Linked DNA regions of Homo sapiens: all the other regions are reported to be linked to region 5. The links are microRNA targets in miRTarBase. Many come from high-throughput screens and were not tested one by one. Region 5 holds a microRNA gene; each other region holds the end of a gene's coding sequence.
The links. The annotated mature microRNA hsa-miR-1264 reads CAAGUCUUAUUUGAGCACCUGUU and lies in region 5 at 3,684-3,706, shown strand. An mRNA with a match to its seed (bases 2 to 7 or 8) in the 3' UTR can be bound and repressed. Matches are read on the target gene's strand: a 7mer-m8 pairs with bases 2 to 8, a 7mer-A1 pairs with bases 2 to 7 and ends in A, and an 8mer does both.

Region 1: the mRNA of HEY2 is a reported target of hsa-miR-1264. The part of its 3' UTR that is shown has no 7-base or 8-base seed match.
Region 2: miRTarBase lists CNOT2 as a target of hsa-miR-1264. Seed matches in the 3' UTR shown: 7mer-m8 at 4,024-4,030.
Region 3: miRTarBase lists ZNF555 as a target of hsa-miR-1264. Seed matches in the 3' UTR shown: 8mer at 5,090-5,097, 7mer-m8 at 5,608-5,614 and 7mer-m8 at 5,909-5,915.
Region 4: the mRNA of FOXP1 is a reported target of hsa-miR-1264. Seed matches in the 3' UTR shown: 7mer-m8 at 3,884-3,890.

The regions. Positions count from the first base shown.
Region 1 is chr6:125,759,360-125,765,397 of GRCh38, forward strand. HEY2 (hes related family bHLH transcription factor with YRPW motif 2) reads left to right here. Exons shown (of 5, transcript NM_012259.3): 5 at 1-1,910. The coding sequence ends at 443. Among named protein-coding and RNA genes, the nearest start is that of HEY2, 13 kb to the left of the region's middle.
Region 2 is chr12:70,351,790-70,357,966 of GRCh38, reverse strand. CNOT2 (CCR4-NOT transcription complex subunit 2) reads right to left here. Exons shown (of 16, transcript NM_014515.7): 16 at 2,974-4,138. The coding sequence ends at 4,052. Among named protein-coding and RNA genes, the nearest start is that of KCNMB4, 11 kb to the left of the region's middle. RefSeq lists a silencer at 5,732-5,932.
Region 3 is chr19:2,852,287-2,858,463 of GRCh38, forward strand. ZNF555 (zinc finger protein 555) reads left to right here. Exons shown (of 4, transcript NM_152791.5): 4 at 94-6,177. The coding sequence ends at 1,666. Among named protein-coding and RNA genes, the nearest start is that of ZNF556, 12 kb to the right of the region's middle.
Region 4 is chr3:70,954,488-70,960,664 of GRCh38, reverse strand. FOXP1 (forkhead box P1) reads left to right here. Exons shown (of 21, transcript NM_001349338.3): 21 at 1,274-5,957. The coding sequence ends at 1,418. Among named protein-coding and RNA genes, the nearest start is that of FOXP1-AS1, 330 kb to the left of the region's middle.
Region 5 is chrX:114,649,013-114,655,189 of GRCh38, forward strand. It overlaps MIR1264 (microRNA 1264), which reads left to right and starts at 3,643; the gene lies at 3,643-3,711. The region is part of intron 2 of HTR2C (5-hydroxytryptamine receptor 2C); the gene reads left to right. It overlaps MIR1912 (microRNA 1912), which reads left to right and starts at 2,532; the gene lies at 2,532-2,611.

The DNA.
Region 1 (6,038 bases), not on the chromosome of region 5:
ACCTGCCCGCAGCCCTGCTCCAGCCCAACGGCCTCCATGCCTCAGAGTCAACCCCTTGTCGCCTCTCCACAACTTCAGAAGTGCCTCCTGCCCACGGCTCTGCTCTCCTCACGGCCACGTTTGCCCATGCGGATTCAGCCCTCCGAATGCCATCCACGGGCAGCGTCGCCCCCTGCGTGCCACCTCTCTCCACCTCTCTCTTGTCCCTCTCTGCCACCGTCCACGCCGCAGCCGCAGCAGCCACCGCGGCTGCACACAGCTTCCCTCTGTCCTTCGCGGGGGCATTCCCCATGCTTCCCCCAAACGCAGCAGCAGCAGTGGCCGCGGCCACAGCCATCAGCCCGCCCTTGTCAGTATCAGCCACGTCCAGTCCTCAGCAGACCAGCAGTGGAACAAACAATAAACCTTACCGACCCTGGGGGACAGAAGTTGGAGCTTTTTAAATTTTTCTTGAACTTCTTGCAATAGTAACTGAATGTCCTCCATTTCAGAGTCAGCTTAAAACCTCTGCACCCTGAAGGTAGCCATACAGATGCCGACAGATCCACAAAGGAACAATAAAGCTATTTGAGACACAAACCTCACGAGTGGAAATGTGGTATTCTCTTTTTTTTCTCTCCCTTTTTTGTTTGGTTCAAGGCAGCTCGGTAACTGACATCAGCAACTTTTGAAAACTTCACACTTGTTACCATTTAGAAGTTTCCTGGAAAATATATGGACCGTACCATCCAGCAGTGCATCAGTATGTCTGAATTGGGGAAGTAAAATGCCCTGACTGAATTCTCTTGAGACTAGATGGGACATACATATATAGAGAGAGAGTGAGAGAGTCGTGTTTCGTAAGTGCCTGAGCTTAGGAAGTTTTCTTCTGGATATATAACATTGCACAAGGGAAGACGAGTGTGGAGGATAGGTTAAGAAAGGAAAGGGACAGAAGTCTTGCAATAGGCTGCAGACATTTTAATACCATGCCAGAGAAGAGTATTCTGCTGAAACCAACAGGTTTTACTGGTCAAAATGACTGCTGAAAATAATTTTCAAGTTGAAAGATCTAGTTTTATCTTAGTTTGCCTTCTTTGTACAGACATGCCAAGAGGTGACATTTAGCAGTGCATTGGTATAAGCAATTATTTCATCAGTTCTCAGATTAACAAGCATTTCTGCTCTGCCTGCAGGCCCCCAGGCACTTTTTTTTTTGGATGGCTCAAAATATGGTGCTGCTTTATATAAACCTTACATTTATATAGTGCACCTATGAGCAGTTGCCTACCATGTGTCCACCAGAGGCTATTTAATTCATGCCAACTTGAAAACTCTCCAGTTTGTAGGAGTTTGGTTTAATTTATTCAGTTTCATTAGGACTATTTTTATATATTTATCCTCTTCATTTTCTCCTAATGATGCAACATCTATTCTTGTCACCCTTTGGGAGAAGTTACATTTCTGGAGGTGATGAAGCAAGGAGGGAGCACTAGGAAGAGAAAAGCTACAATTTTTAAAGCTCTTTGTCAAGTTAGTGATTGCATTTGATCCCAAAACAAGATGAATGTATGCAATGGGATGTACATAAGTTATTTTTGCCCATGCCTAAACTAGTGCTATGTAATGGGGTTGTGGTTTTGTTTTTTTCGATTTCGTTTAATGACAAAATAATCTCTTAATATGCTGAAATCAAGCACGTGAGAGTTTTTGTTTAAAAGATAAGAGACACAGCATGTATTATGCACTTCATTTCTCTACTGTGTGGAGAAAGCAATAAACATTATGAGAATGTTAAACGTTATGCAAAATTATACTTTTAAATATTTGTTTTGAAATTACTGTACCTAGTCTTTTTTGCATTACTTTGTAACCTTTTTCTATGCAAGAGTCTTTACATACCACTAATTAAATGAAGTCCTTTTTGACTATTTTTTATGTGGATGAGTTGCTTTGCAGAAAAGTTTCCTTCCACTTTCTATGTGGAAAGTCAACATGAATTTCAAGAGGTCTTTATTTACTAACGATCCAAGCTATGGCTTTTCTTTATGTCTTTCAAAATCATTTGATATAATTCACAGCTTGCCTGAAAATAACATTTATCTGAGCTTGTAAACTAAGCATAGGCAGTAAGATACTTGGAGGCAAGAAATAATCAGTTTCCTCTGCCTTTTATTCTTAACTACAGTTCTTGGCAAAGTGCAAATTCAAGACTTCCAAATGGTATACCAAATATAGGATAATAAGCTAGAACATGTCATACATGTTGTAATTCAAAAACATTTGTAGAGTGTTTTAAAAACATCACATACATACATGATAGGCGTGTACATACGTCCTAATGATAAATCCCTTGTGCTTCAATGACAATTTCTTTTGTTGCTGTGGAGATTGTATGGGTATTGCCTCTGCTTCAGTGAGGCCTAAATAAACCATCATAGAGCTCCTGAAGCTATTGGGCCAAACAACATAAAAAGAATGAAAGTGATTTTTATTATGCTTATCAATTTGTTCAAAGGAAAAAGGAGGGCTTTTATATTCTGGTTTTGAAAAATCCAGCAAGTAGTTTAATTTCTGTCTGTAAGTGGGTAATGAAAAGGTCGAGGGGAGGCAAAAGCAAATCACCTTGTTTCTTGTGTCTATAAGCCTTGTGGTTCTTATATTTTCCAGCTGGCTCTAATAGAATGAGGTAGCAAATAAGAAAATTGATTTCGTTGTCTTAGGTGTTTGCTTTATAATCATGATTTGTGGACAACAGCCATATAATTTTTACTTTAAGATCTAAAACCTGAATGTATTCCTATTGTAATGTCAGCATTCAGAGAACTTCTTTTCCTTTTTTGAAATGTAAACTTTTAGAGATCAGGAATTTAAAATTTATTTGAATTAAATATTTTAAGATAAATTCCTTTCCTTCCTCCTTCCCTCCCTTTCTTTTACTTTTTGTTTTTTCTTACATTTTTTATTGCAGGTTATATATGTATTATTATTTTTCTTTTTTCTTTTTTTTTTTTCTTTTTCAAGACAGGGTCTCACTCTGCTCACTCTGTCACCCAGGCTGAAATGCAGTGGTGTGATCATGGCTCACTGCAGCCTTGACCTCCGAGGTGCAGGTGATCCTCCAACCTCAGCCTCACGAGTAGCTGGGACCACAGGCATGCACCAGCACACTCGGCTAATTTTTGTATTTTTTGTAGAGACAGGGCCCTAGTATATTGCCCAGGCTGCTCTTGACCTCCTGCGCTCAATTCATCCATCTGCTTCAGCCTCCCAAAGTGCTGGGATTATAGGCATGAGCCTTCATGCCCAGCCAGATTATTATTTTTCAATTCCACTGACTAAAATATTTGCAAATGAACTTGCAACATAGTTAATAAGAAAGTGTTCCTAAAGATAATCGTTGTCAGTAATTCAATCATTTCAAGTTAATTATGATCAATGTTTCATATGATCAACTTGTAGCATCACATCTCACTGTTTATATTAACCTGACCACCGGAGGTTGCCATCTCCCATCCAAGTGTTCTGTGAAGGTGGTATTCCACCATCAGATGTGGTAATTCTCATGTTTGCTACCAAAATAGAAAAAGAGTTATACCCTTTAAAGTTATTTTAGGGAAAAAGAATTTTCAGGGTTTGATTTATTGATGGTTGCTTTTATTTGTGTAAAAGTCCCAAAATTAACTCAAAGGATTTTTAGTAAGATAAAAGGAAAAAGGTAACACTTTTAGAAATTTGTGTTTTTCCAACTGTTTAAAGCTATGTGCATGACTAATTAGAAATTTTGTTTAAAGTTCACGTCAGTGAGCCAGAAGGTATTTTTTTAAAATAACTGTTATGTGGCCCAGCATTGCACTGTATATGTTGAGTTTTGCATGGTGTATAGTAGCACATCAAAGTACAATCCTATAGACTGATAGTGATAGGTATGGCTGCCACCCTAGCTATTCACAGGGGTTCTCAAAAGAAGGAGGTGCACTAAAAGTGACAAAAGGAGATTCTGGGAGCTAGGGGGAGGAGGCTTTTTGCTCTTCTTTGGATATTTTACTATCACAAATATGATACTGCATTTTTGAAGAAATATGAGAGACCTTTAAAGTGATGTTGAAACATTAAAAAGTCAAAATATATATATTTTTTGAGACAGGGGCTCCCTCTGTCACCCAGGCTGCAGTACAGTGGTGTGATCATGGCTCACTGCAGCCTCAACCTCCTGGGCTCAGGTGATCCTCCCACCTCAGCCTCCCAAGCAGCTAGGGAAAAGTTCAAATATTAACCAGAGAGATGGCTCTCCTATGCACCTGTGCATAGGTATTATCAAACATAATGAAGCCTTTTGGATTATCTTTCTTATATATTCAAATTGTTCTTTTTGCCAATCATTAAGTTACCACAAAGTCAGACTAATCACCTTAGGTAACATCATGAGAAAGCAATATGATTTTAGAATTCTATATTTCCGTGAGTCTAAGACTCCATTAGTTACAAGATACACTATTGGTTGAAGATCAGTTTTTAAAGAAAAAGAACCACTACAACATAAATTTACACATTGACCATAAAACTTCCTAATTGCTAGAATGTAAAAAAAAAAATTTCAATGGCATCTCGGATTTTAGGCAATACAATAACACAGTATTGTACTCCAATGCAATTTTAGAAATTCATGGCTAGAGTTGTACATAGATTAAAATGTGGCTGTTCTAGCTTACTTTTAAAATGTCTCAATAAGATAGAGTCCTACCTAGTAAAATCAAAGAATCTAGATTGACTTTGTAAGCCTAATGGTCTAAAGATAGATGCATTTTTTAAACTTTTTATTGCCCAATGGGACTGCTTCTAGTTGTTCTGCTGCATTTTACTGAAGAATGGAGTTTGACTTCCCCTTATAATTCTTTTAAGATCTAAGCACTGACTGAGGCTGTGAATATTTCAGCAACTACAACAAAGCATTGCAGCAAACATGACATCATAAACTGTGACTATAGCTCATATTATTTGGAAGGCTAAATCTTTGAACTTGGTTGGGAGATCTTAAGAAGAAGAAAAGCCCCTGAGCTTACATAGACAGTCTTGCGTGAGGGGCCAGAGGCAGACGGGAAATGGTTCTCTAGGCATGAGGTGGTGCTTTTTCCCATGGCTCCCTTACTTCTAACTTCAAAGGAAAGGAAAGGAAGTGGTCAGGGAATCTGCTCTGACTGTGGGAACCAGTACCCACTGTAAGGTGCAGGTCTGAAAAAGAAAATCAATTATGATACTAACTGCTAATACTGGTCAGTTGTTCTCTATACTAAGCCCCATGCTAAGTGCTTGAAATCTGTTTCTTCATTTAAGCCTCATAACTGTCCTGTAGAGTAGATAATAGTTTACTTACTTACATATTAGGAATTGGAGAATAAAGCTTAATTGTCCAAGGCCATTCCTAGCAGGTTGAGCTTTGAGTTAAACTATCTGAAAACTATCTGATACTTAAATTCATACTTTTGACCTCTAGGCTGTGGCTTTTGACACTGCTTTTTTGGTCTCAGAGTTATCCAGACTCCCCCAGGATTTCAGCCTGCCTAGGATCAGTTTGGACTAAAGATGACAGTAAATCCAGCTACAGTATTATCGTAAAACCACTTCCATCTCACTCTTTTAATATATGAAAGGATGAAAAAAGGAATAACTCCACTTTATAATGCAACATAAAAGGGAAATTATTTTTGGCAGTTCTCTAGTTTTAACTCAACTTTCAATCAAGTCACACGTATCTTTTCTTCATCTATGAGCTTAATCTTTAAAGGCTACCAAAGAAAATTCTATCATCTCACTCAAAGTGGTTGACAAAGGTGTGGCAAAATGGTGAAGTATTAAGGTACTAAGCAAATTGAGTTTGAAAAAAAAAATCATTTCCAATCTTCCATATCTAAAAGATAAGAAATTGTTGTTGTTGTTGTTTAGGGAGAATGCTGGATTATTCTGAATGTTTATACACCATAGGTCCATATGCCATAAAACAAAATTCTTCATTTGACCTATGAAGACCTGTCCAGTAACCCATTCACTTTAATAATTCT
Region 2 (6,177 bases), not on the chromosome of region 5:
TTAAAAATCTGAATTAACTCAGTTACTTTTTAATATTGCACTGAAATCCCTTATTTGTCCTAGTTCTGCTCTTCCAGTCACAAGAATGAGCTTAATTGCCTTTCATTGACAGCTCTTGAATTTGATACCTGAAGACAAATACCATGTTTCCAAAATTGTATTCCTATTTGTTTTTAAAATTTACTCTAAAATGGGAACACTAAATTTCACCTCATGATGCTATTCTTCAGACAACAATGTATATAAAAACACACAGCATTTGCCAGGCAGCTAGAAGGCATGCTACTTCTCCATCCCCTTCTGCCTTCCCCAGGCATGGCAGCTCTTCTAATACAGCATTCAAACAGAAGATGACATTTCAGATGAGTGATTACTTCCAGTAGAGTGGGCTTCCTATCTTTTTCTGAGTGCTATATTTTTCTTAATGTAGCTGAAGATTACATTAGTATTTTTGGCAACAGGATCACAATTCTTACTGATCTATATATGAACCACTCAAATCATGTTATATTCCACCATTCTTTATTAACAATCAAAGTGCAAAACTAAGTAATTTTCTTGATTGAATGTATCCTATTTGATTCAACTCTACACACCAAACTACTTGGTTAGATTTAGATCCCAATTTTAACCTTCAGTGAGTTTATTTGCTTCATCTTCCAGATCTGTCATGTATTCATGGTATAATCAAAGTCACTGGTAATGCCAGTGGCAAGGAGACAGCCTTGTGACCTGCCATTAGGATCCAACTTTTAGAAAGTAAAGGCATCTCAATGTCTGGCTTAGTTCATTCTCCAGAGACTATCTCAATGGAACCTAGTTAGTAGATATTTCTAGATCTTATTAACTACATAGACAAACCATGGTTAATGTATTATACAATCCTGTTTCCACACACGTATAGGTTTTCAGCAACTTTTTGCAAAATTGAGCTATTAAATCTAAGTTAAATGAAATGAGTCCTACTGTACAGCCATGCTCAGATGCCACATATTTTATGAGCAATGGATATAACAAAGTGGAAGATCTATGGCTTGTGAATAGAAGAGGATTTATCAATTAGAGAAGCTATAGACTGGAAAAATTTGAAATATTTAAAAGTTATTGAAAATGCTTAAAAAGATTATTGTGAAAATGAAATTATAGCAAATGATAATTGAGTAAGCTATCTCAAAGCCCAATGCTTTATACTTTATTTTCAAATTGAAATATCAACTTTTATCAGTCAACAACTATCAAGCACCTGCTTTGTCCCAATTTCAGTGTCAAAAAGAAACAGACTAGTTATATATACTTTAAGAATTAACATAAACTTTCAGTTCTTAAAATGTATTATATCTAAGGAAAACTATTTGTGTAGTTAAGTCTCTGAAAATAGAGCTTTAGCATATAAATTATAATACCACCTAAATAATTATATTTGAAACCAAATAAAGGATTTCCCTTTGCAATTAAATAGCTTTTATTCCCAGAAAGCCAATCATAGTTTAATCTAAAAAATTTATTTAACATAGTGTACACATCTATTTCACTAGCTATATAGGGGGAAATTAACAGAATTAAAGCTTTGAAAGAAAATGTGAAATATAATTAGTTGGATTCAGCCTCTTTACATGTATAACCACGTTATAAAATCAAGGCGTATTATAACTGTTACATTTAAAAAGTTCAAAGTAGTGTTTTAAATATTTCAAATAGAGTAATTTGTATTTTGAAGTCCATAGCATGGTAATTTCTGATATTAACAAGTTATAAAAAGTTGGCTAACATGCAAGAGTTTCTTCATTTTGATGATTCAGGATAAAAAGAACTCAAAAAAATGGAAAAGTGTGCATTTAAAACTCTGTATATGGCAGTTAACAAAAAAAGAGAAAAAAAGATTACAGCCAAGACAACAAACCACTTGGTATGAGCTATCTTATTTTTCGGAGTCATTCATCAGTACCAGTCATGATCACGCTTCAGCTGAGACTTCAATCTATATTGTTGTTTATATTCATGAGAATAAAGATCCCCTTCCACATTTTTCTTCCTACTTGTTTTTTGTGGTTATGTAGGAAAAATTACATTTTATTTTACAAAGTGAATTACTAGGAAAAATGTAATCTTTTTTTTTCTAGATTGATTTCTATGCTTTGACTCTGGTTTATGTCAAATAAGGTATAGTGTTCTGTGAAGGTTTGTGCACAATAGATAAAATGATTTATATAGTGCTATCTTTCTTACTGAGGAGATGCTTTGGTTTAATTATGAAAGATAGAAAATCCTGTTTTTTATAGTGTTTCTCATATCTCAAAATGCATAGAAAAAGGTAAATTTTAAGCCACTTTATATTCCTGGTACACAAACACAGCAATGTCATAAATGTTTCATTTTCAAAAGATTTGGTTAATGCCAACAGACTTTTACTCTTCATAGAAAAATAGGTTAAAAATGAAAATTTAAAGGATCAAAACTCATTGCCTTTTTTCTACTCTCTAGTTCTGCTTTGGAAGCTTCAATCTTCTGATTTTTAAAATACAGTATTTGTATTTAGATGGGAAAAGAATCCACTAACTTGTAAATATGAGATATCTAGGCCAGCAAACTGAAGGTAAAGTCTACCCATTCCCACCTTATGGCTTACCTTCATTTGCACATTACTTCTTAAAGATAAATTTAAAGGTCTATCAAGAAATTTCTCATAAATTTTTCACAGAAGTACTTTGGTTGGGTTCCAAGAGTATTCAGAATGTTTTATTTCTAATGCTGCCACAACCCATTTAAAAAAGTTTTCTCTGATTAATACTGTCTACATTTTTAACCTACAAGTGAAACGGTTCACTATATTTCCATTAAATTACTTGTTGGAAGCTGAAAAAGACATTTGAGTCACACCATTCAGTTTGATATCTGTAAAACTTCAGTTTGTTTCCTCTATTTTTCATGTTGAAGAAATAATTTCGCAATTTCAAATCAAAGCCAACACTGCAGTGAGGAGAGCTTTTCTACTTTATTACAAAGAGAAGAAGCCTTTATGTGGTCAGAAAATACAAGATTGATCTTTTTTTCTCTTCCTATGAAACGCTGCTGTTCAAACAGCCAGAGTGAATTGTCTCAGTTCACTTCTTTTAAGTCCCATCACATTCACTTGGGTATGGATGTCCTTGGCTGCTGAAAATCTGGCCCTTTTAGTGCACAGGGCGACAAAGTCCCCTGACCAGCAGTTCCAGAATGTCCCATTTTCATATATTGCATCCATGCACACCTCCTAAAAATGAGGTACAGCAGGGCAAACATTTTCCAAAATAGATGTCATATATATAATATATACACATTCGTACATACATACCTTTATTCATGTGATGTCCAAAAATTTAAAAAAAATGTACACATTTATTACAAAATCGTAACAAAGACTGGACAGTGTTTTGCTCATTCTGGAAAGATGAAGCTCAGTAATAACACAACCCTGGAAAACCATCCAGAGATTGTGGCAATATCTTTCTTCTAAACAGTCAGATATTCTTGCATTAAGCTTGGCGAAACTGCCTTTCAAAAACAGAAGGGGAAGTAAAATGAAGGAAGCAGACCTCTTGCTCATCTTTCCAAATGAAATACGAGAAGGATCTTCACATAAAAATGCACAAACATTTGTTATTTTATTACCAATAGTGCTACAATGAACAATGCAAAATTTGTGGTCTAATTTTCTTGAGTCTTTTGGGGGTTTTCTTTTTTACATTTTAGAAACTATGGTAAACTTCTGTCAGTGTATTTGCTTGTCTTTACAGACTCAAGTCTGTCTGCTGGCAAAAAAGGAAATAAATGAAAAAATTCAGACCCTGCTCAAACTAGAGAAAAACAAATTACAAATTTAGTTGTTGGGCAGCACATAATTAGTAAGGCAGGACCTCAAATGGTGACCTTTTGCGTAAGCCAATTGCCAGATCCTCAAGGAATTAAAACCAGGGTGCCTGAGCCACATCAGTTCTGCAGTTATGTTGAGTATTGTGCTGAGACAGCCATACCCCAAGAAAAGGGAAGTCTTTTTTTTTTTTTTTTTTTTTTTTTAGAAGGCTTGCTGAGCAGGGTTGTAGTTGAAGGTGGATGGCAGGTGAGGCCGTTCTTCTAATTTGTCATATTCCAGATGGAACTCCTATAAAAACAAATTCAAGAATTTAGATATCTTCCCCTTTTCATTTTACATTTGTCAAAATACATTTTACTATAAAAATAAATAAAATACCCAATATATATGAATCAACATCAACACAGATATACCAACTGTTTTTCCTCTACATAAAATACAGCTTGAAGAAAAATAATGTGCTGTAGTTTCTAACCAATGAGTACAAAAAATACAGACAGGCTTTCTGTGTGTAAGTCAAGAGACTACTAATGGACCACTTGACACTGAAATGTTGTGTATTGTTTTTAACTTAAAAAAAGAGGGGGCAATTACTGTATCTCTGAATCACTGGAAATTACAGGATATTTAAAATAAAGCCCCCTTCAACGAAGTATAAAAACCTAAAGATTTTGTCCATGAAAAAAGTTTAGAAATAATTTTCCAAATTGTCTTTATTACATTTATATTAAAAAATAAGCAGGGCCGCGCACAGTGGCTCACGTCTGTAATCCCAGCACTTTGGGAGGCTTAGGTGGGCAGATCACGAGGTCAGGAGATCAAGACCATCTTTACCAATCAACATGGTGAAACCCCGTCTGTACTAAAAATACAAAAATTAGCTGGGCGTAGTGGTGCACGCCTGTAGTAGCAGCTACTCAGGAGGCTGAGGCAGGAGAATCGCTTGAACCTGGCAGGTGGAGGTTGCAGTGAGCCAAGATTGCACCACTGCACTCCAGCCCAGATGACAAAGCAAGACTCCGTCTAAAAAAAAAAAAAAAAGGAAAACACATAAAATTATTCTAACCTCATTAAAATCTGGGGAAAATAATGAACTTAAAACTCACACATCACTAGACTTGCATTTCACAAACCCAAAACCCTGACTCAAATATAAATCAACTGCCACCGAAAACTAGACAATGGTTCTGCTGTAGGAACATTTGAAAACTAGATAGCAGCTCACTTTAATCAAACTTTCAAAATACTGTATTAACTTCATGAGTTTTAAAATTTAAGAATGGTGACATAATTTCTTCATGATACTTCCCACCCAAGATCAAGAATAGAGATGCAGAATAGCTATGTATATTAGAAAAAAATGCAAACAACAAATACCTCTGCAACCCCAATAAGCAAGAGGCTCTAAAAGCCTCTTACCAATTCTACCATCTGAATTAGCACAAATTACTGCATAATCCAACTTAAAGAATTATGAAGCTTAATATGTATTATGTATTAAAGATTAAGGCAACAAGTGACATTAGCTACCATGGGTTAACATATTTTACCTTATCTGTCTGGTTTCAAACTGATTCCATGATGAGTATTTCCATTATTAAATTAAAATGAAAACCTAGACTATAATGACCAAATTTTAAGATGGAACACCAAGTATTTAAAATTTAAAGATATTACACTTAAATAAATTTAAAGATATTACAGACCTAACAGCAGAATTTATTGAAAGCCTAGTATGTGCTAAAATTAGAGATACAGCTAATTTTATTCTAATCTTTGTAATAATTCTGTAAAGCAGATATCATTATTTTCATTTTGTACCTGAAGAAAATGAGGCTTACAAGTAACTTGGACAAGTCATCAGTAAGCGGCACACCTAGCATTAGGATCCAGACCCATGTGACAAAAAGCCTCCATGTGACAAAAAGCCTGTGTCTTTTGTAGTGTAACACATTATTTTTAATATTTTTAGTCCAAGATCCAAAACAGATTCATTTACTTCATTACAAGGCAATCCAGAAATGCTGAAAGAATTCAGTCCCCTTCTCTCTTGGTATAAGGTGAAGAAAAAGGAAAAAAAAAATCAGTCCCCTGAGAGTTTATAAAGAAGGTACACCATGGTGACTTTAGCCTGAAAAGGTTGCCTTCATGTGACTGGTACAGTAATTAAGACACAGAGGTTATTTGCTTATCAGTAAAAATTAGCAAACACCAGAATCACCACCACAACCATGACATCCTGCCCTAATACACTGTGTAGCACTACTCCCCCTCTCCCAGCCCTAGCTAGGAATTAAAATAATTTTATTGCTTGGTTCAAGTTGACT
Region 3 (6,177 bases), not on the chromosome of region 5:
CTTTCACTGAAAATGGTTAAGATGCAGTCCTAATCCTAATAAATACTAACAAATCATTATTAATCAAACCAATAACATGCTTCTCATTTTTAGTAGAAATCATGGGTTGGAGAGACTCTGTGAAAGTAATGATCAATGTGGAGAAGCCCTCAGCCAGATTCCACATCTTAATCTGTACAAGAAAATTCCACCTGGAGTAAAACAGTATGAATACAACACGTACGGAAAAGTCTTCATGCATCGCCGCACATCCCTCAAGAGTCCCATCACAGTTCACACTGGACACAAACCATATCAGTGCCAGGAATGTGGGCAGGCCTACAGTTGTCGTTCACACCTAAGAATGCATGTGAGAACCCACAATGGAGAGAGACCCTATGTGTGTAAATTATGTGGGAAAACCTTTCCTCGTACTTCCTCCCTCAATCGGCATGTAAGGATTCACACTGCTGAGAAAACCTACGAATGTAAGCAATGTGGGAAAGCCTTTATTGACTTCTCAAGTCTTACTAGTCATCTCAGAAGTCACACCGGAGAGAAGCCATATAAGTGTAAGGAATGTGGGAAAGCTTTCAGTTATTCCTCAACGTTTCGAAGACACACAATAACACACACTGGCGAGAAGCCATATAAATGTAAGGAATGTGCGGAAGCCTTTAGTTATTCCTCAACTTTTCGAAGACATATGATTTCACACACTGGAGAGAAGCCACATAAATGTAAAGAATGTGGGGAGGCCTTCAGTTATTCTTCGGCTTTTCGAAGACACATGATAACACACACTGGAGAGAAACCCTACGAATGCAAACAATGTGGGAAAACCTTCATTTATCTCCAGTCCTTTCGAAGACATGAAAGGATTCACACTGGAGAGAAACCCTACGAATGCAAACAGTGTGGGAAGACCTTCATTTATCCCCAGTCCTTTCGAAGACATGAAAGGACTCATGGTGGAGAGAAACCCTATGAATGCAACCAGTGCGGGAAAGCATTCAGTCACCCCTCCTCCTTTCGAGGACACATGAGGGTGCACACTGGAGAGAAACCCTATGAGTGCAAGCAATGTGGGAAAACTTTCAATTGGCCCATATCTTTACGAAAACATATGAGAACACATACTAGAGAGAAACCCTATGAATGTAAGCAGTGTGGGAAAGCCTTCAGCTTGTCTGCTTGCTTTCGAGAACATGTGAGAATGCACCCTGAAGACAAATCCTATGAATGCAAGCTATGTGGGAAAGCTTTCTATTGCCACATATCCTTACAAAAACATATGAGAAGACATACCGCAGAGAAACTCTATAAATGCAAGCAGTGTGGGAAAGCTTTCAGTTGGCCTGAACTTTTGCAACAACATGTGAGAACGCACACTGTAGAGAAGCCCTATGAATGTAAGGAATGTGGGAAGGTCTTCAAATGGCCATCATCTTTACCAATACATATGAGACTGCACACTGGAGAGAAACCTTATCAATGTAAGCATTGTGGGAAAGCATTCAATTGTTCCTCATCCTTAAGGCGACATGTGAGAATACACACTACAGAAAAACAGTATAAGTGTAATGTAGGACATCCTCCTGCAAATGAATTCATGTGCAGTGCTTCAGAAAAGTCACACCAGGAGAGAGATCTGATCAAAGTTGTAAATATGGTGTTGCCTTTATGAGTTCCTTATCCTGAAAGTGGACACTCAAGGAGTGTGTCTGTAGTTCATTTGCAAATAAACATTTAGTTGAAAAATAATTCTCCAAATACTCTCAGCTATCCTACATGAATTTGAACAGGTAGTTTCTTACGATTCAGTAAATAAAACTTTCATCTTAGAGTGTTTTGGACTCATGGATGATTTGAAGTGTATTTTTAATATGCAAGTAGGTTCAAGTTTTATTTAATTTCTTAAATTGTAACTGACTTAGTGTGACAGGTATTGGATATTACGTATCTATTATATTTTCCACCTTTTTTACTGGGAGTATTTTTATTGTTTGGCCAGAGGAGCCTTATTCCATTTTTTAAGAAGTAGTTGGCAGAATTTTGTAATTATGCAAAGTTGTTTAAGGAGTATAGCCTCAAATGAATTGTAATTTTTAATGTTTGCCCATTGCTGTTTGTCTTTGCTTGTGATTGTGAATTGGACAGTAGGCTTTGACTTGTGATGTGACGGAGAAATCCAGAGTTGCAGATAGTTCTTCTGCATTGTTGTCAGTGTGGGTAGTGTTAGGAACTTCATTTGCTGGAATGCATTTCCTTTATGGTTCCATGTCCAAATTTACCAATAGCAATAACTTGAATGAAATTTAGAATGAAGAAGAAGTAAGTCATCGCTGAGCTTTTGGGGTCACATTAAATGGAGATGGACAGATGCATAGGGGCTTTGTGAACATCAACCTTCAGCTTATTTTCCAGATTCTTATTCCTGCCAATCAAGAGTACCATCAAAAGAAACACTTAAGTGCTTGATTTCCACTGTGTCAGAGGTGTAGTCTTCCTCAGACATCTCCATTAACTTGATATTAGGGATATTCCTGTGTGGTCAGTCACCTAGAGTCTGGATTTTTCTCAAAACCCTGCATGACCTCTTGACCACTGATTCAGACTGTCTTGTTTGGCAGTCTCTGAGCTTCTGATTCTCCCGTTCTGTAGATCTTAACATATTTGCATGGGGTCTAATTTATATAGTGAACACCTTGTTATCTTAATACTTCCAGTGGCTCTGTGATCCTGATTCCACCACGAAAGCCACAGTGTTGCAGTCAAAGAAGAAAAACAACACATGGGACTTTGTACCCTATTGCATTTTTAAGTGTGCCTGCCGAGTCCTATGTGAGAACAAATACCTTCCTCATATATTAGATTTAGGGAGATTTCTGTTACTCAGAACTAAATGCAGTTTCTTGATATAGGTTAAATTATTAGGTTTGATTATGTATCATTAAAAATAATGTGGATTTTGTTTCAAGGAAAACCTTCTGTAGATATTTCTTAGAAATATCCTGTTTAGCTGGGCACAGTAGCTCATGCCTGTAATCCCTGCACTTTGGGAGGCTTGAGGTCAGGAGTTTGAGACCAGCCTGGTTAACATGGTGAAACCCTGTCTCTACTAAAAACACAAAAATTAGCCAGGCATGGTGGTGAGTACCTGTAACCCCAGCTACTTGGGAGGCTGAGACAGGAGAAGTGCTTGAACCTAGGAGGCGGAGGTTGCAGTGAGCCAAGATCACACCACTGCACTCCAGCCTGGGAGACGGGGAAAGACTCCATCACACAAGCAAGAAAAGAAAAAAAAATCCTATTTACTGTGCTTTCAAATTAGTTGTTTAGAGACTATATTAATTTCCCAGGGCTGCCATAACAAAGTACAAAAACTGGGTGACATAGGAAAACAAACTTTTTGTTTCTCAGTTCTGGACCCAGAAATCCAGAAACAAGGCATTGGCAGGACCATGCTTTTTCTGAAGATGCTAGGGAAGGATCTGTTTCAGAACTCACCTAGCTTCTGGTAGTTCCTTAGCTTGTGGCAGCATAACTCTAATTTTCACATGGCATTCTCCCTGTGTGTGTGTCTCTCCATGTGACAATATTTTTATACATACACACCACTCATTGGGTTAGGCCCCACTCTACTTCAGTATGATTTTACCTTAACTAATTACATTGGCAACAGCTCTCTTTTCGCATACTGAGGCACCGCGAATTAAGATTTCAACGTAAAAATTTTAGGAGACCCAATTCAACCCATAACACTAAGAAATGTTATTTTTTGTTTACCGAGAGAATTACAGATTTCAAATCAACTTTGTAATTTTGATAATTTAAGCATGTTACATTTTGAATCAGTATTACCAAGTATATACAAATACAGGTATTTTTTCATATAAATGTTATTTTTAATTGCTGTATACTTAACATTTGCCATTAAAATGATTTTTTTTTTTTGAGACAGAGTCTCGCTCTGTCACCCAGGCTGGAGTGCAGTGGCACGACCTTAGCTCACTGCAACCTTCATCTCCCAGGTTCAGTTGATTCTCCTGCCTCAGCCTCCCGAGTAGTTGGGATTACAGGCATGCACCACCACACCCAGCTAATTTTTTTATTTTTGGTAGAGATGGGGTTTCACCATGTTGGCCAGGCTGGTCTTGAACTCCTGACCTCAGGTGATCTGCCCACCTTGGCCTCCCAAAGTGTTGGGATTACAGGCATGAGCCACCACACCCGGCCTAAAATGATTTCTTATTTGTGGTTAATAACAATTAAAAAGCGGAAATAATGGTTTTGTCAAGGCCCTCTACCCAGAAACCACCAGGATCACACTGGTAGTCAAAGAAAATTTGCTGTGTTGAGTTGAAGTTTGAACACATGATCAAGAAAGGGCTGTGGCTTGTATCAGAGGGTGTTTAAAAGGATTTACTATCAGATTTGGCCTTGTGTTCTGTGATTTTGGTGAGCGTTCAAGGAAGCCAGGCTTTGGTCTGGATTGGATGTTCTCAGGTCATGAATATAATTCTCTGGGAACTCCCAAAGTTCTCATCTACAAAGCAGAAGTTAATTGGAGCTGAAAACTAATCAGTAAAGCCACAGCAGCCAGTCATATGGGGGAGAAGAGGGGAATGTTTGATGGTTTTTGTGGTTTAGAGGTGAGTTCCGGAAAAAAAGAAGACATGTTTGACATCCTCAAACGAGAAAATTTTTCATGTGTTTTATAGGCCAAGGAGGCAGAAGCTTTTGTTTTAATGAGCCAGAAAGCCCCAAAAGCCTATTTAAGTTTTCTCAGGTATCATTTCAACCTCTGAACTTCCAGAATTAACTAGGGAAGAGGAAAAACATGTAACACCTTAGAGTTTTATTAAAGAGCAAACAATATCCAGTAATCTCCATTACTTTCCATGTTAACATAAGTTTTCATAACGCTCTATAGATGAATGTGATTTGGCAGTCACTTGTATTTCTTAACACCCACTTACCCATCATTCCCTCTTAGATGAAAAAAGTTAAGCACGGGGACAACAGAGTCTTGTATATTCATGTAGCTCATGATGATGGAATCAAGTTTGAAGGCTTAACCTGTGCTTAACCTATATTGGGCATTGTCAAGACTTAAATTTAGAACACTGGAAAGCAAGTATAATTAATTTTACAAATAGGGCATCAAATTTTACAAAGACTCCTAAGGCTATATGGTATTCCTTTTATAAGACATGGAAAAGGCAAAGATAAGGGAAACGAACAAATCGCTGGTTAGAAGTAGGGGATTTGAGTACATATGGGCTTAAGAGTGTTCTGTCATGATTGTAGTGGTGAAAACAAGCATTTGCAAAAACTCATAAGGCTACTCTTAAAATAGCAAATTTTGTTGTATGTATATTTTAAAGTTAAACAATAAAAATGCTTTCAGTTTATTAAAGAACTCAAGACCAGGTGCAGTGGCTCATGCCTATAATCCCAGCACTTTGGGAAGCTGAGGCGGGAGGATTGCTTGTGGCCAGGAGGTTGAGGCTGCAGTGAACTATGATCATGCACTGCACTCTACACTGGGCGACAGAGCAAGACCCTGTCTCAAAAAAAAAGGAATACAAAACATTCCTGAAACTTGACATGTAAGTTCGCAATAAGACTTTTCCCTAGCTGGGCGCGGTGACTCATGCCTGTAATCTCAACATTTTGGGAGACTGAGGCAAGAGGATCACTTGAAGTCAGGAGCTAGACACCAGTCTGGGCAACATAGCGAGACCTCAACTCTACCAAAAAATTAAAAAGTGAGCCAGGCGGGGTGGTGCACGTCTGTGGTCCCAGCTACTTGGCAGGCTGAAGCAGGAGGATCACTTGAGGCCTTGAGGAGCCATGATCGTGCCACTGCACTCCAGCTTGGGTGACAGAGCAAGACTGTCTCAAAAAATAAAAATAAAAAAACAAGACTTCCCCCACCATCTTGGAATTCTCTGGAGGAAATGTAGGGCTGGTTGACAAGGACTTGTGCCTCGTCAGACCCTGTTTGAAACCCAGTCTGAAGTTTTGAAACACCCACAAGGGCCATACCTGACTTTATCTCACGCACATAACAGGAGAGAAGAAGGAGGTCTTCCAGAATCTGTCTTTGAGTTTACACCAGGTTCTTCCCATCTGATCTTTGGGAATGCTGTGGTTCTGAAACATAAAACGGGGACCCTACACTTCTTCCCA
Region 4 (6,177 bases), not on the chromosome of region 5:
GCCAACCATCCCCATTACCACCTCTTATTACTAATACTTGATAACGTCAATTTAAAAATCTTCCCTTCTGCAGCCTGTCCCAGAGATGGGACCATTTTAACTCAAATGGTTCTTTTACATATCAAAAGCCCCTGCAACAGAAAGTCATTTGTATATGCAAAGGATCAGTTGTAAATATGATTTACGAACAACATTTCTCAATAGTTATCCGAGCGGTTTTGTGTGATCACCCCAGTCCCCTTTGGGTGAACCATGCGCTGGTCCATAATGAGAAAGTTGGCAGACCTCATCGCAACCACGCTCATCCCAGTGGCTGCTACCAGCCGGGCCTCATGTTTTGCCTTGTTTACAGCTGACAGCGTTATTATTCTGATTGGGGCTCTGCTTTCTTATCATATTGTTGTGTTGAGCGAGCCTTTTCCTCTACGTTTGTGTTTCCTGGCAGGGCTTTTCTTGCCTTATTGACAGTTTGTAAAAATATGCATTAATTTGGAGTTTCAAGCATGTATATCATGGTGTCTCTTTGCTGTGTTTGCTTGAAGTTGATTAATGATAGAACCTCGCTTGGGGTCGTCCTCTGGAGAGTTCTTTCACAGGTTCTGCATGTTAACTAGCAAAGCAGAACACACAGCAAGCCATGATTAGCCCAGCCTCCTCTGCTCAGTGGTCCCCACAAACTGCCGTTGCATTACAGATTCTTATTTCGTGTAATTATTTGAAGATGGGTATTCATCCACCCAGGATGCCACTACGGGACCTGTTATCTGGTACTCAGTGTGGTTCTAGGACCACCGGCATCACTTGGGGGCTTGTTAGAGATGCAGAGTCTCAGGCCCCACCCCAGACCTGAATCACACACTGCATTTCAACAAGGCCCACAGGTGACTGCAGCGTGTGTTAAAGTATGAGAAATGCCACCAGGGAGGAGAGGCCCACACCAGTCCAGAGACTAGTGATTCAGAGCATCACTACCCAAGAGAACTTTACGCAGTGATGCAAATGTTCCGTCTGTCTCTGTGCTGGCCAGAATTAACCGCTAGTCACATGGGGCCTTTGAACATAAATGTGGCTAGCACAACTCAGAAACTGAATATTAAATGTAGTAAGATTTCGTTCATTTCAATTTAAAGAGCCACGTGTGGCTAATGGTAACAATACTGGACAGAGTTCTAGTTCTAGAGTGCGGCTTTTCTGTTGCCCCAAACTTTTCAGTGCACCTGAGCTGCAATGGGCTGGGAAGTACCCTCACTGAACCTCTGCATATTTTTTCCAGGCATCCTGTACACGTCAAAGAAGAGCCCCTCGATCCAGAGGAAGCTGAAGGGCCCCTGTCCTTAGTGACAACAGCCAACCACAGTCCAGATTTTGACCATGACAGAGATTACGAAGATGAACCAGTAAACGAGGACATGGAGTGACTATCGGGGCGGGCCAACCCCGAGAATGAAGATTGGAAAAAGGAAAAAAAAAAAAACACGTCAAAAGTTAGCAGTGAAATTGTTCTCCATTTGTTGTACAGTCTGGAGGATTTTCACTACGTTTTGACAACTCTGAAATGTGTTAACTCTTAGTGCCATCAAGAACCCCATTTGGGAGTATTTTTGATTTTTCTACTTTTTGTTGAAAAAAGGAATTTGTACTCTGTGCATTGGATGGACTTGTTTGGTACTTGGGATTTTCCTCTCTTAACCGTCAACATCAGTGTTGTAAATTTGCTAAACTGATTCACTTTTAGCAGCAGACTTTGAACTGCAGTCCTGCCAACGTTGGACACTGAGGACGCCCGACAGAGCTTGTGCACCTAAGCTGCAGACCAAGCCTTTGCCCAGAATTTAAGGATTCCAATGGACGACCTATTTGCACAGTACTGCATGTTGATTATCACTGCCTTTACTCCTTTTTTTTTTTTTTTTTTTTTTTTTTTTTTGCTTCCAGTTGGGATGGGGAAGGCCTTTGTGTGTGTATTGGGGGGAGGGGTTAAAAAATAATTATCCCAAACTTTTTAATGTATTGCTTTTTTTTTTTTTTTTTTTCCTTCTACTATACCATTTTAAGTTCTGACCTCAGGCCTCCATTTGGGCCGATGGCCTCTTGGAGGCTTAAAGTTTTCTGTACCTTGTGATGAATGTTAATAGGTGTTTTTATTATACAAAGCTGAATGTCATTTCTCGTTTGTAGCTTTCTGTCACTCATTCCATCTTCCTTCAGACATCACCACGTTTCTCTAAAGTCAGAAAACATTCCGTTTTGGTCTTTTTCAAAAAGGTCCCAAATGCTGCACTCTACACATGAAGGCCCTCTCACACAGACGTGACGTCCTGCCAGAAAGAGAATGAATGACAGAAAAAAAAAAGAGAGACAAACTCTAGGAACAATGCCGATTCATTCCACGCAGCAGTATTGGGGGTGGTTCGGGGGAGGGGTGTTTCGGATTTTCTTTTTTTCTTTTCTTTTCTTTTTTTTTTTTTGCAGCAACCATTAATAAATGCCACCACATTCTACCAGCACAAGGAAACATAGGCAGCACTGAAAAAAAAAAAAAAGCTCATATTAATTAGACTGACAATATGGCCTTGGAAGGCTCTCCCTTGTGGAACCAAGTTGCCATGGGCCTTGGGTGCTCTGCGATAACGGGTGTGGGTTGGTTTTGTTTGCAAAATGGCCAAAAAAAAAAACCGGCTTCCCCGAGCAGCTGCCCTGAAAGTAGGGGTGGCGGCGGCGGCGCTGAGTTTATACATTAGTTCAGACCTACTTGGTGGCATTAAACTGTTTGAATGCAAATTCGATTTCAGATTGAACTTGTTAAGGGAGTTAACGAGGGCTGAGTTCAGCAAATGCTAAAGTGTTAATTTCAAATATGCAAATTTGGTACTGCAGTTTGTTATGCAATATTATATCACCAACCCAGTATCACAAAAACTCATAGAAGATATCATGTAGGCCCTGGGCTTTGGGGGGGTCCCAAACATGGTATGCAGAAATGTGATGGTTACAGGTCAGTACAACCTCAGTCCTTAGAACCCCTCCACACTTCAGCTCTGCACCCACTTTCCTGTCATTTATTTATATAGGACTGTAGTTTTTTTTAGTTCGAGAGCCTTTCGAAGCTTAATTTATATTCTTTCTTTGTACCTTTTTTCTAAAATTACCAAAGATATTACACAAAGGTAAATTATGTTCTCTGTTTTATGCTTTATCTGATGAAGCCAAATATCCTCTTATTGTTGATCAAAGGAGGCAAAAGAATTTAGAGGCAAATGACAAGCGATAGGCTATTGCAACCTGAGAAAGAGAACTGCTCCTTCATCGTAAATTTAGAAGACCAAGTAGATAATGGAACCAAAGTTGTTACTTTTTTCTAGTAGTTATTTTTCCTTTTTCTTTTTGTGTACCTCTACAGAGACCAAAACTCATTCTCTTAAAGAGATTTTATGGGGCTACTGCAGATAAAAATAGGACACAATATTAAAGGAGCTACAGAAGGAAGGGAGTCCCATCTCAAAAAAAAAATGAATGTATGCCACTGCAATTAGAGTATCCAATAAAGGAGACAGTTTAGAGTCAGGACAGAAAAGCTTCCATAATTGAACTAGATTACATAATAGTATTTCTAGAAAAAGAGATATTTTTAGATTGTATGCCACTTTTGTTTAAGAACTGTGCTGTGATCACTGTATTAATTTTGGTTTATCTTGGCATATATCCTTCAGTTTGTTTTTATTTTTAATTTTTCCTTTTTTTCCGATTAGGCTTTGGTCAGCATTTTTCATTTAAAGAAAAGTAACACTCCCATCCACTCATAAGCTTGGTACAAAAACTTCTCTGGCAGTTACTTTTGAAGCTTCACTCTGCTTTCTGTATAAAGGGCAGTCTGTGGTCACGCAAGACTTTAAAAAAAAAAAAAAAAAAAAAAAAAAAAAAAAAAAAAAAAACTTTTCCAGGCAGCTTCATGATGTGCAGGCAGTAGCCAGACAGGGTCATGGGAAGGGGGCCCTGTGCTTCTAAACTGAGTGGTTGCTGGTTAGTTTGGTATTCAAAAGAGGATAAAAATCTGGTAGATTAGTTCATTCTCAGCATGTGTAGCTAGACATGAGTAAAGATAACAGCATGAGAAACTGTTAGTACGCATACCTCAGTTCAAACCTTTAGGGAATGATTAAAATTTAAAAAAAAAACATTTCACTCAGTTGCACTTAGTCGTATGTCTTGCATGCTTAGTCTAAAGACTGTAGCAAAAAAAAAAAAAAAAGAAAAATTAGATTTTACATATCTTTGCAGGTATCACAGCCTTGCAGAAGAACCAACTGAAAAAAAAATTCTCAGGCTTTACAGCAAGCAAACTTCACTATGATTTTTACAATTCTGATTCTGTATCCCCTGGGGGTTATCCCAGTTGCTTCTTTAGGATGGGGTTTATTACGTTGTACATATATCCCGATGTGTCTGTGTGAATCTTTGTCTTTTTTGGGGGAGGGCAGAGGGCGGTTCTTTTTTTAGATATTGTTCCTAAAAAGGAATAAATGCATACACCTGTTTGTCAAAACACCTTTGCTTTTTGTGCAACTGCTTTATATTAACGATACTAAAAAAAAATAGCTTTGGAAAAAAAACTACTGTATGTAACGGAATTGCAGAATATGCTGCACATGTATTTTATTTAGTTATCCTTGCTTTAAGAATATTGGATGACATTTCCTGACATGTGGGAGGGAGAAACTCCCTAACTTTTTTTTTCTGCTTTTAAACTGTAACATAGTTGAAGATTTCTTTTTTCTGTTCTCATTGATTGGAGCATTTTGTACAGGTTTTGTGTGTGTGTGTGTGTGTGTGTGCGCGCGTGCGTGTGTGTTAATCTGTTTTTTGATACATTCCTATCCCTTGTGTTTATCCTACCACTGCCTTCCTGGCTATCTTAAACAAGTTCATACATTTGAAAAGAAAAAAAAATGTTGTTTAAAAAATGTTTTCTCCTGCTGCAGTAAATATTTTGCATGATGAAATTCCAGGGTCACACTTTTCCAAGTTTATCAGTGAAGTAGTGATTAACAATGGGGAGTGTCAAAACTATTGAACTTTTGTATAAAAAAAAAAAAACTTTACAAGGTGCCAAGATGTAAAGAAAATCTGTTACTTTTTTTTTCTCAAAGAAAAGCATACATTAGGGAGGTAGTCCCGTGTGTCAGACAAATGCACTGTCAGGAATGAGGATCCAACCTACCTGTCCCTAGAGTCCGTCTTGTAAGATGAGTTAGGCTGCCCCTTGGACCAGCCACAAAATGGAATATCAAGGCTTATGTACATACGTGAAGAGTTACCACCAGTCCTGCCACCTTTGGACAGCTCTAACACCATCCCCAGCATCCAGTCAGACCTAGTAAAGAAAACCTTGGATTCTTAACCCAAGATAGGCTGTAAATCACTAGCTTTTTTTTCCTCATGAAAAAAAATAGAGTTAAAAAATATTTCCTCTCTTTTCCATATTCCAGCTGAACTCCGTTTCCAAAGGCACAAAGAAGAGTGTGCTTATTCAGATTTTGAATCTTTTTGGTACCTTTTGGTTAATGACATAGCCTCCTGAAATTCTGGATGTCTTCAAAGTCAGTTTTGCTTCTTTATCCTGAAAATCAGATTTACAATGCTGAAGGCATTTCTTGGGCCCAGTGTAGCTCACGCAATCTCTGCTACCCATAAGCCTTGATGAAGATGATACAGTCCGGACTGTGAGCATGGTGCTTCATGTATATGTGCTGCCAGTAACAAGAATTTTTTTGTTTTGTTTTGTTTTGTTTTGATAAGGCATAAAAGAAACTCATTCCTTGACATCAACTGTAATTCCATCATTCCATGTCTGCGGATACAGACAATAAAAAAAATGTTGTGTAGTCAGTACTAATTACTGACATTATAAGCATTCTCAAATGCAATAAAAATGCTGGTTGTTCACGCTGGTAGTAAAAGTTGCCACAGCCTAAGTTTGTTTCCCTTTCTGACCTGCTGATATTGTATGTTAGGCATATGCCTTAGGTTTATCACCAGCTGCTTCCAATGCAGAATTAAAATCAATCTTAAAGCTTTCATGATCAGGGAAGGCTGAAGCTCTTATCCTCAGGATTTCCAAGTGAAAGTATCCACTTAGAGAATTGGGAAGTAAAAAAAAAAGAGCAAGAGATGTTATCT
Region 5 (6,177 bases):
ACGCTACATACGGATACTTTAACGTCAACAGATCTTGGCTCCAAGAGAACAGCAGTACATAAATTTAGATTCAGGCTTTATTTTCTCCCTTTTGCCCCCAATTATTTCATGTTTTAAGTATTTTCCACATATGATCATGACAATTATAGTACTAAATCTATAGTGTCTAATACACTTTTCAAGCACTTGGGAGGATTCTATATTTTTATTTGTCAAATTCAGCTTTTCTCAATACTATTTAAATGTTATTCAGAAGATATTAATAGTTGGGAGCAGATTTTGTTACATTTGCCTCTTGGCTGTTAATACAAACAGTAGTTTTTATTTTTGTGCTTTTTTCTTGATGATTAATTATTTTGATAATTCCCAATACAATATGGTACAGCAGGCTTTCTTTCAGTACAAAGAAACACAGTGTTTATCCTACTGTAAACACTGTTAATGCAGTTTTCTCTGAAGAATGCTTTGTGTCTTCTGAATTGGGGGACACCAGCAAGGCTTTTAGCCATAGGAACATAAGAAATTCTTGTGGTCACAGAGCAAAGGTAATCTTTCATCTTTTCTGTGTTATTTTTATTTTTATTTATTTTTGTTGTTGTTGTTTGTTTGTTTTTTAATTTTTTGATGGAGTCTTGCTCTGTCGCCCAGGCTGGAGTGAAGTGGCGTGATCTCGGCTCTCTGCAACCTCTGCCTCCCAGGTTCAAGCAATTCTCCTGGCTCAGACTCCTGAGTAGCTGGGATTACAGGCACGCATCACCACGACTGGCTAATTTTGTATTTTTAGTAGAGATGGGGTTTCACCATGTTGGCCAGGCTGGTAACGAACTCCTGACCTCAAGTGATCCGCCTGCCTTGGCCTCCGAAAGTGCTGGAATTACAGGTGTGAGCCACCGTGCCCGGCCTTTTCTCTGGTTTTGAAGATTTGTGTAGCATCACCATTCAGTCATTTCTAACTGAACAACAGGTGAGGAGTAGGAAACATAGTTTCATCCGTATACAGAATTTTGCCTGACTTCCTATGAAACAGAAATAGCATGAGCTTGACGTTTCTGTCTATTTTGACAGATCTGGAGAATGAACACAAAGTGGATAGCATAAATCTCTAATTTGACTACATTTAATGTCTAAGTCATTACTTTATTGCAAAGTACCATATGAATGAAAATTAATGTTTACTAAACAGATGAAAGGAAAATTCCCAAGTCCAATTTGCAGATCATATAGATGGTAAAAGAGGCCCCAGTTTAATGTATTAAGAGGATTCAGAAATCATTCTGAATATTAGTTGTTTAGTTGATTTTAACACATCATTCCATGCTTAAGACTGTTCAATGCCTTTCTATCTAAACTCCTTATCATTGCATACAACATGTTAATAATATGGTCCTAGGGTTTTCTCCCTAATCTCAGTCTTTAGAAATCATTTTGTCACAGTGGTTCACACTCACCTTAAAGTCATTTGTACTTGGTGTTCTCTCTGGAACACTAGTTTTCCATTTCTTCAAATGACTAGATCATCCTCATTCTTCAAGTCTCATGTCATATGTGACTGCTTGGAAGAGTTCCATCCTGATCATGCCATCCAAACTACTCACTCCCATTTCTTGTGTTGATCTGTTTTATCTTTCACAGCATTATTACTGTATACAATTTTCTTCTTTATTTGTTCTCTTCTTTATTATCTCCCTCTTTCTGCCCCATATTGTAAACTCCCTTGTAGACAGTTCCTCATCTGTCTTGTTCAGTTTGCTTTCTATTGAAGTAAGAATAATAAGTAATCAAAATAGCTACCATCCAGCTGCTCTATTGAATCTTAAATCTAGTCAGGGCTGTCGAATTGAACAGTGAGGTAGAGGCTCTTGGAAAGATTTCAAAGACACAGTAAGATGATGAAAAGATTAGAAAATAAAACCTATGAAGAGGAGAAAATGGTGACATGGGTTGCAGTATTAACTACCCCAGAATAATAATCCATTATATTTGCTCACTTCTTGCAGTTTACAGAACACTTTTGCATGTATGAACTCCGTTAGTATTTTACATGATATCTACATTTATGATTATCCCTGTTTTACAGGCATAGAAACGGAGGCTAGGGGAATTTAACTGACTTGTTCAAAGACAGATAGTTATAAGTTATTATTTATGTTTTCTCAGTTCTAAGGCCAATATTTTTTCCATGACACTACTTTTGGTTTAGTCTTCAAAGCAAATAATTTAATTTGGATGTGATGAACAAAGATGTTTAATATTAGGGATTATAAATTCTGATAAGTTATCCCAGTTGTTCCCAGATAAATTTGGAATTCCTTTTGAATAGATATTCATCTGTCTGGTATGGTTTGGAAGAGGGTAGAGGGTATGGCTAGAGGGTAAGAGACTACTTAGATATTGTCTCTTCAAGCTTTAAAATCCTATAATCTTTTGGCTAAGTTTTTGACTTTCAAAATTAATCATTTCAAATTTACTTAACATTTAAAATTTGATCAAATGATACCACCCTTTGAGCCTTCTATCACAACTGGACTTGGCTCTAGGATGTGCTCATTGCATGGGCTGTGTATAGTATTATTCAATACCCAGAGCATGCAGTGTGAACATAATAGAGATTGAAAGACAGCCAGAAGGGTAAAACATGAATTCTTAAAGAGTAATTTTGTACTTCATGTAGATTTTTTTAACTCTCCATTTTCAGCTGTTTACTAACTATGCTTCCAAATTCTATTCCACAACTGAAATTTTAAACTCACAACTTAAATTTGCATGTTGCTTCTATTATAATACATTTTTTATTCCTCTTTTATTTACATTAAAAATTTACTGAAATTTCACATGAATAGTCAAAGTTAGCTTTCAGTAGCAGTTAGAAGCATTCTTTTAATAGAACTATAAAAATACATTTGGAAGAACATTATTATGATCTTTCATCATGTTGAAATTTCTTTTGATGACACATCAGATGCTATTTACAGATGATAATTGAAATCTCCATAGTATAATTTTACCTCATGATGATATCAGTGAACATATCATCTTGTGATCAGCTAACTGGATGTTTCTTTAACCCATTTATTTAAAATTTCACATAATTTCCAGGTGTTTTCTTTTATAATGAGAATCTGTTACTTCAACAATTCTAAGTAGATCATATGTCTTTGATTTGAAATAGGAAAAAAAATTTCCTAGACTGTTAGAATGATTTTGTTTGGTTGGAAAGCTGCGTGATCTCTGCATATAATTCCAAGTATAAAATGTACTTGATGCAGTCCTGACTATATTCCTTATAATTAGAAAATTTATTTTTATTTTTTGCGTCTCCTTGCTTGTATCAGGAACCAAAACTAAACTTAGTCACCTAATAGCCAAATATTTAGAAGTACTTGTTAAGAGGCCTAGTCCAAAACATGAATAAGAAATGTTATAAGTGGAAGAAAAATAACAGAAGTTCACTTAAGTGAGAATATAAATGGAATAGAGGTGGGAAATGGATTTATATAGAAAGAAACATTTTAATACATGCTGATTAGAAATATTGCGGCATTTTCTGAAATATTATCAAACTGAAAATTATGGTCTAATAGTTTTAAAGAAAATATCATAACATATTCAACACATTGTGTTTCTCCATGCCTGGCATATAGCAGGTCCTCAATAAGTATTTGTTGAAAGAATAAATAAACCAACAAGTCTTATTTGAGCACCTGTTATGTGGAGGATACAATCCTACGACCCAGACAGACCTTATGATCTAGTATGGGAGAGAAGAAATATAAGGAGAATGCACAAGTGATCGCCATATCTGAAAGTCTGTGATAAGAATTAAAGAATTGGAAAAGGTTAGAGGAAGGCCAGATTATTTCTCATCTGGGAAACTTTTGGGGAGAAAAGAGGACTTGAGCTTGGGATTTAGTAAGAATCAAGTGCACAAAAGTATTTATTGTAGAAATTTGAGCGAATATATAAATATTATTAAATCATTATTATAAGACAGTCAATAAACTAAAACAAGAATTATATCATCAATAAATCTTGTTATAATCATCCATTCTTAACTTCATTTGCACATTACATTGATATAATATGAAATAGTCTAGGTTCCTGCAAGCCTCTTTGTCACTTAGCTTTTTTTTTCTTTACTACGTTATATAATTTATAGGCAGCGTATCCAAAATGTTTCAGTAATTACTCTGCCCATCATTTTATTCTTTGGGTTAAATTTCTAGCCTAAGTTATTAAAAATTAATTTAAATAATGAAAATAACTTCAGTTATGTCTAATTTAAAAATTCCTATTAAATATGTCAAATAATAGTTTATTTATTTTTAACCTTTTTCTTCCTGAGAAGATCAAAGATCTTAGCATATTTCTTTCTATTTCCTCCTAGGACATCTTTGTGAGGAGTAGTTGGTATCAGGAAAAGTTAATTTCATCAGGTTAGGGAGAGTGTTAGGAGAAAAGCAAACTGATTGTCCCACCCAAAATATTTATGCCTGTCTTGTAAGTGATATGCAGATCACTTTGACTCTAAGCTAGTTTTCTCATCCCCTTTTCATGCAACTTGCTTCTTACTGACTTTGCCATTTATCAGACAGAACCTTATTATGTGCATTCTCCTCCTATTTTCCCTCCTCTCCCTCCTGTTTCTCCTTGTTCATCTTTCTTCTTTATTAAGTGTACAAGGATTATGCAGGCTTTGTTCACCATTCTATATCTAGCTACAAACACTTTCTATAGGGTTGAATTGGAATCCATATAAATGTTTGCTGAATAAAGTAATAGCCACCCGCTTTGGAAAAGTCAGCCCATTTAAATATACTAATCTAAGAAAATCAGTATAGGAAGATTAATCTGACTTCTGAATGTACATAGTGCATACTAAAATAAAATGTGGTCAGCTTTTATTTTATTCACTCTTTTGCAATATTTCTGCTACTACGCTGCAGAACCTTGTCTGTCTCATACTCCTTCAGCACTTATTAGGTGTGTAATCTTGAGCCAGTGAATTAACCTTCCTGAGCCTTTAGATATAATACGAGACTAATAATATCTTGTCTATCTGAAGACAGTAAAATGGATTAGAAAGTCTATTGATCCAACTTATGATAAATGAAGATGTGAATAAAATTTTTAAAAATTGATTTATGAAAATTATACTGTTTTCTGCTCTTTGCTTATTAGTTACTGTAACTAATTCCTCATGAGATTCCAAAACCCCTTAACTTAAAAAACAATAAAATAATAGATGTATGTGTGTATATGTGTATATATGTATATATACTCATATATATATAACATATATATCATATATATAATTTTTTCGCTAAAAACTCATGGTACCTACCTAGTAATGGTGATTATTATCATCAGTTAGAAGTGTGTAATTCATGAAATTTCTAAAAACAAATTCAAATCAAAAGCTTTGGTATGCATATTTAATGATATATTTTGAAGAGTTAAAGCTTACGTAACCATCACCAGTGTCCTTTCAATTGCCATAATTGTAGAATAATTTTTTATTGGTTGGCTGTTTTTCTTTTTTTTTTACTGGCACTGAAACTTTACCCCACATTGTTCTTTTATTCATTAACTAAAGTTGTACCCTAATACTTGGTTCTGTACTAGGAGCTGCAGATACAGCAATGAATAAGACACAATCCCTCCCTTCAAAGAGATAACATTTTATTGGGAGAAGTAGGCAATAGAGCAGACAATTAATATACTGTGTTGAAGTGCTATAGCAAGAATGAGCTCAGGATACATTGTGAACACATGAAAGTTCTCCGAACCCAGCTAGAAGGTAGAGGAGTCAGTCAGGGAAAGCTTCCTAGAGGAGGTGATGTCAGTATTGTATTTCTCCTGCCTATACATGTCCTTCCCAAGGAGGTTGAAATGCAAATTATTTAAACATTTAGTATCTAAGTGAGATATACAGTAAAAATTTATCATTTGGTTATACTGGCTACTTAATGTTTAGTACTAAATGAAACTACAAAACACATTACCAGGACTAGAGGTGGGGTAGAAAAGAAAAAAAAAAAAAGCCATACCAAGAATGAAGAGGCAGTTTTCACAAACCTGCCAAGTAAAGAATAAGGTATGATTAGGAATCAGATGCTTACTAGTAGACTTCCTGGAGACTAAGAATCAGAAGGCTGAATGGAATTTAGGTGACAATGC